Regions from separate parts of the Homo sapiens genome. Here region 2 is linked to region 1. The links come from fine-mapping of genetic effects on gene expression. A gene starts in region 1. The other region holds a variant in brackets. All regions are shown on one strand. Distances are from middle to middle.

What was found. PIP is the estimated chance that this variant, and not a neighbour inherited with it, causes the effect.
Region 2: its variant is the best candidate, but not a certain one, in a credible set for the expression of GPR75 in blood mononuclear cells (TOPMed, PIP 0.69).

The regions. Positions count from the first base shown.
Region 1 is chr2:53,858,443-53,861,356 of GRCh38, forward strand. It overlaps GPR75 (G protein-coupled receptor 75), which reads right to left and starts at 1,525. Exons shown (of 2, transcript NM_006794.4): 1 at 1,386-1,525. It overlaps GPR75-ASB3 (GPR75-ASB3 readthrough), which reads right to left and starts at 1,525. Exons shown (of 10, transcript NM_001164165.2): 1 at 1,386-1,525. The coding sequence starts at 1,486.
Region 2 is chr2:53,931,316-53,934,229 of GRCh38, forward strand. It overlaps PSME4 (proteasome activator subunit 4), which reads right to left. Exons shown (of 47, transcript NM_014614.3): 9 at 1,353-1,445; 10 at 520-785. Among named protein-coding and RNA genes, the nearest start is that of PSME4, 38 kb to the right of the region's middle. The variant A/G (reference allele first, on the strand shown) is at 1,830.

The DNA.
Region 1 (2,914 bases):
ATTCTTCTATGTATCTAACTGTAGTTCACATATAAAGTAATCATAAATCACTCCTATTGAGATAATTAGAAAAAAAGGAATCATGGGCTGGGAAGAGAAAAGGGAGAAAAAGCAGAGGACAGAAAAGACGAAAAGGTTTGCAGAAAAACTTTAGTATAACAGAAATCAAGAAAATGGAGGGAAAGTAAACTCAGGTCTTAGTAGTAACTCCTGAGACTTTAAGAAAAAGGAGGCTGTGACCATAATTTGGAATGACATGATGACGGCAGAAAATAAAAGTGGTTTTGGAAGGGGAATAAATTAATACTGCTTTGCTACTCATAAATATTCAATAAAGATTACCCATGTTATTTGCAATGCAAACATACAAGCTACTCTTCATCTCTGGGACGGAGAATAGGTTATAGAAGATGTGATTAAAGTCACAAAATCAGAAAGATTTTAAGCTGGAACACCAGTCTTAAGCATGCATATTAGCTGCAGTAAGAATGAATTCACATGCATATTCTTACAAATGAGACATCCTGAAGTAACTAGCAAGCAAAGAATATGGATGAAAATTTATTGTATAATTTGAGTGGCAATGATTTTTCATTAAGATATGTGAACAGCCTCTGATATATCTAGTGTGCTGTTTTAAATTTTTAGTGAACATTAAAACATGCTATAGGGGCTTTCATAAATCAACTCACGACCTGAATTCTTCCAACCCCATTCCCCGCGCGCCCCAAAATGTCTTAGGTTAGCATTTTCAAAGCCTAATCCTCACAGAGAGCAAGGTTCTGTATTATTGTGATTCCCATTGTATTTCTATCGATCAGGAAAACCTCAGGGAGGTTAGATAACTTCCCCAAGGTCATTATCTGATTTCAAAGCCCTTGCTCTTTCTATCCAGTAGAACTACATTGAACCCGGAGCAGCTAATGGGATGGGAAGACCTGAGTCATTTGATGGGAGGGATGAAGAGGCCAGGGAGCCCCCAGCCTGAGGACAGAGTGGGAAACTGCGGGCAGGGAAGGTCGACCCCCCCGTGAGGGGCTGGCGGTGGGTAGGGGCTTCCCGGAGAAGGGTGAGGTGACGGTAAGGAGGGCCTAGGCCGGGCCAGGTAAGCTTGCAAAAGAATGCCGCAGAGGGGTGGTGGGTTAGGAGGGCTCAGCCAGGGTAGGGGCGGTGGGTGGGTGGGTGGGGGGGGTTCCACGGCCGAGCAGAGCCTGGGAACCGGCAGGGACGGGCGAGAAGGCTACCCTGCAGGCCGCACCAGGAAGACAGGTACGCGGAGCCGGGCCTGGCCCAGCGCAGCCGCGCTCCTCGCTATCCCGCCAGCCTCCGGGAGCCGTCTCCGGCATCGTGGGGTTGTCCTCCTCCAGGGGCCCGCGGCCTCTCACCTGCCGGGTGGCCGCAGCGCCGCCCCTCCTCCATCTCGCAGTCCGGACCCCAGCTCCGCCTGCCGCTCTGGATGATGCAGGACTAGAGGCATCATCGCCATCGCCACCGCCTCCGCGCATCCCGGGAGCCGCGGCAAGACGCGGGCGCAGAGGCGCAGTCACGGAGACGCCGAGGGCACCGCCCCCTCCGCCGGACACCCGGGCCTGGCGTCCCGCCTGCGCCCCGCACCCTCCGCGCCTCCGTCGCCTGCCTCCTGGGGCCCAGAGCCCGGCCACTCCCGCTGCCCGCCTCACGAGGGGCGCTTGAGCCAGGTTTTTCAGGCTCGCAGTTTTGCTGTTTGGGGAACTCAAGCTCCCTGAAATAGCCAAAACCTGAAACGCAGAGCAAGGTGGAGTGGTAAGGAAGGAAGGGAAAGATAGGGGTACTGATGGCACGCAGGGACCCAGGGAGGTCTTTGCGGGCCTCCCTAGGCTGCTTACCCTGCCCGCAGCCCACCTCCTCCTCGTTCCCCGCGCTTTTAAGACGTCCTAACTAGCTCCTCACTTAGGCTGCGGCTAATATTTTTCCTCATGAATTAAATTGGCGGCGGCTTCCAGTTTGGAACTTTGAGACCTAGAATTTACAAATCAAGTCATTGTAATAGAATTTAAATTAAACCTATTTGAACTTACCTAAGCTCTCTTAAGGTATTAGTGAATTCACTGAGGGAACTCAGCAAGGGGACTAATTGGCAGGAAACATGCAAAGCATAAAGAAACTACCCATGCAAATAAAACGACCAAGCCCAGGAATCATGGATATTGATGTATTACTTAATACTATGTTGAATGTAAAAAATCTTGATAAATCATAGTGCAATGTACAAGCTAATTTTATTAAGCACAAACACAAAACTAAAATTACCATCCTCTCTCATTCTTCTAGAATTCATACATGTCCAAAATAATGAACTCCTAAGATAGGTTTTAGTCTGAACAATCAAGTAACATTCCTAAGTATGTCTGCTATGATGGGTACAAAATAAAACCAGTTAAACTCTTCTCCCTTCAGTATCCCAACCTGGCTAACTAGGATCTTACTACTTTTCTAACCTCAGGGATGCTATTTAGAAACAGAGAATGTTATTTGAATGCCCTTTCCTTCATTCACTCTGGTTACCAGAAAAGCAAAGTTGATTCCGTTCGGATGAAATACTTATACTGGATTCTTCATTTTAGCTAATGGTTTATCTTTTTAAAACAGAACTAGCAAGTATCAAGTAATTTAATTAATGCAATTTCTTCAGTTCCCTGTGCTTTCATAAAAACAAAACAAAACAAAAACAAACGAAAAAACAAAAAGCAAGAAGGCTAGATAACTTATTATTCAGTCCAGGAGTTGAGTATGCCATCAGAATTCTGTTTAGAAATAACTTCAAGAAAGTTTTCCAGTTCCCACATATTCCACTTCCCAACCACTTGCAATAAAGCAGTTCCAGTATATGTTATCAATAATGGTAACCATGAGTCCCAGAAACAATCCACAGAAA
Region 2 (2,914 bases), 73 kb after region 1:
CGCCTATTCTGTGACAGTGGCTAGGCAAGTAAAGAGTTTTCCTTACCATTTCAACACACAAAACACAATGAATAAAATAAAACTTACACTGTAAAAACAACACACCTGAATATATAATACATGAAAATAATAAACACAATTTTCTTCTCTACCACTGATTCTAAGAAATAAAAGAAATCCAAAAACCACTTTCACTGCCATATTCTCAATCCTTAGTGACACTCAACATTTCGATCTAAAAAGGAAGGCCAGATCTTAATTCATAAGCATATAATTTTGGTAACTAAAATGTGTGAAGAATCCAAAAGATGTATGTTACCCATTTCATTTCAATTTTTTTCTCTCCAATAAACCTTTATCAAGTTACCAATCATTACATTAAAATGTCCTGCTTCTCCTCTAGGAACAGGAATAAGCATCGAAGAAGCAAAACAGAAGCCACAGAGGAGAAAAGAGAATCGAGCTGAACAGACCAAAAGAAAAACCTAGCTGTGGCTGAGACTCCCACTAACCACTTACCTTTCAAGTACAGGGGGTATTACCAATTCAGGTCTCATGAGTGCAAGATTCTGCAAAGCCTGGGCTGCTTCTAGACTACCGGTTTTGCTAAACATAGCCAAGAGGACAGGCTGAATAATGCATTGTACAAAGTCTGTAACATCTTGATCAGTAAGCTTGTGGCTATCAGGCACAGGAGTTAACCAAGAGGGCTTCTTGTATCTTTCACGATGCAATCTTCTAACAACACTGTTTGGCAACCGCTGAAGTAGTTTCATTAACTTGTTCTGGGGACACAGAAGCAAAAAGTTCTAAGTAGGTTCTACTTTGCCGCATAGACATTCATGGTTGCTCTCTAGCTTCTTGAGAAAAGATTTTAAAAATAACAGTTCTTATTATCTTATTACAAAGAACTGCACAGCATAACTAGATAGAATTAAAAGTTACCAATTAATTATTCCTAATAATTAATGAAAATGAGTTTCAAATTCCAGTCTAAAAAAATTTCTAGCACATAATTTTCCATTACATGAAAGCCATTTTAACTGGACAACTTAAAAACAACAAAAACAGATGACAGGATAAAACTGAAAAGATGGTTCTATGCTTCTAAGGCATTTTTGTTACCATTTTTTTGCAAAAATGAGCCATGTTGTCAACAGTTACCACATCAATATTATTTATTTAATTTATATGCTCTCCCACACAGTAATTTAATTTAAATGTAAGCATTTACATATAGCTAAAGCTATGAAGGACAGAAAATGTATTACAGGTCACACAATAGGCAATAGTCAAGGATGACCATATCTTTAAAAATTCCAAGCCCTATAATGCAAAACGAAGTTACTCACCAGCCAGCGCCCATTATTTGAAGGATGGTAAAAAGATGTGATGCTGTTAAACAAACCAGCTAAGTGTTTTTGCACTAGCTTACTTGGTCCACCCTGTCCAGATAAAAGAGTAAAAATGTCAGTACCCACATCATACTGTAAAAACAGAGGTCAACAGGCCCAAGCCTATACGTAAATCACTAATACAGTTTATAGTCAACTTGCTGACAAAAATAAATTCTACCTTTAAATAAGAGTCAAAAACAATTCCCTGATGAACTTCATGCAAACCAACTCAAAATATTCTACTGCAAATAAGGGCAGCTTACTTGAACCAACATAAAAAACTAAAAAAATACCTGTCAACTTAGGATAACAAACAGCGTACTTTACTGTTCTGCAGTAAATAACCTGGATACTAAAATTTATCACTAAGATTATCATCTTAAAATTACCAAGAATGCTAACATCAGGCATAAAAAACCTGATGTAAGGCTG[A/G]GGCGGGCAGGTCACTTGAGGTCAGGAGTTCGAGACCAGCCTTGCCAACATGGTGAAACCCTGTCTCTACTAGAAATACAAAAATTAGCTGGGCATGGTGGTGGGCGCCTATAGTCCCAACTACTCGGGAGGCTGTGGCAGGAGAATCACTTGAACCCGGGAGGTGGAGGTTGCAGTGAGCTGAAATCACGCTACTGCACTCCAGCCTGGGCGATAGAGCGAGACCATCTCAAAAAAAAAAAAAAAAAAAAAAAAAAAAGCGTTTCCCTCTGTTGTCCAGGGTGGAGTGCAGTGGCACAAACATGGTTCACTGCAGCCTCAATCTCCTAGGCTCAAGCGATCCTCCCACCTCAGCCTGCTGAGGAGCTAATACCATAGGCATGTGTTATCATGCCCGTGCTTACTTTTACTTTTGTTTTCTTGTACAGGGTCTCGCCATGTGGCCCAGGCTGGTCTCAAACTCCTGGGCTCAAGCTATCCTTCCATCTCGGCTTCCCAAAGTGCTAGGATTACAGATGTGAGCCATGGCACTCAGCCATATTTTCACACTTAACACAAAATGAAGTTGCCAATGAGAACTGTGTGAGAAAGCAGAGCAAAATTCACTCACACAATAACTAATACTAATCACTATCCAATTCTGTAGCCCCCAAAAATCCAGTTTCAACTCACTGCATATGTAAGATAGTAAACATCTTTCAGTGTTTGCTCCTACTGATTAAGAAAAATGGGATTTTTCTGTGTAACAATAAAATGGCAAAAACAAGGGGGGGCTTAAATTTGTTTTTCTTACAATGAAGTTTAAGAAGTAAACTTTTAAACAAAAAAAAATTGTCTTTTCCACAGAAACAAGCTAACGTGTAAAACAGAATAATAATTCATGAAGAAATAGCTGCAGAAGCAATATATGAATGATAAACTAGATAATTATAATAGGAAGCTGTTCTAATATTCTTATATGAAAGATGACATTGAAATCTAAGCTTGATATGTCTTCACTTTCCTTTAATGATGTCAACAAAGTAATCCTTCACATCTCTCCCTTCACTAAGATTACTTTGTTAGTAAGCTTTATGTTCAATGCA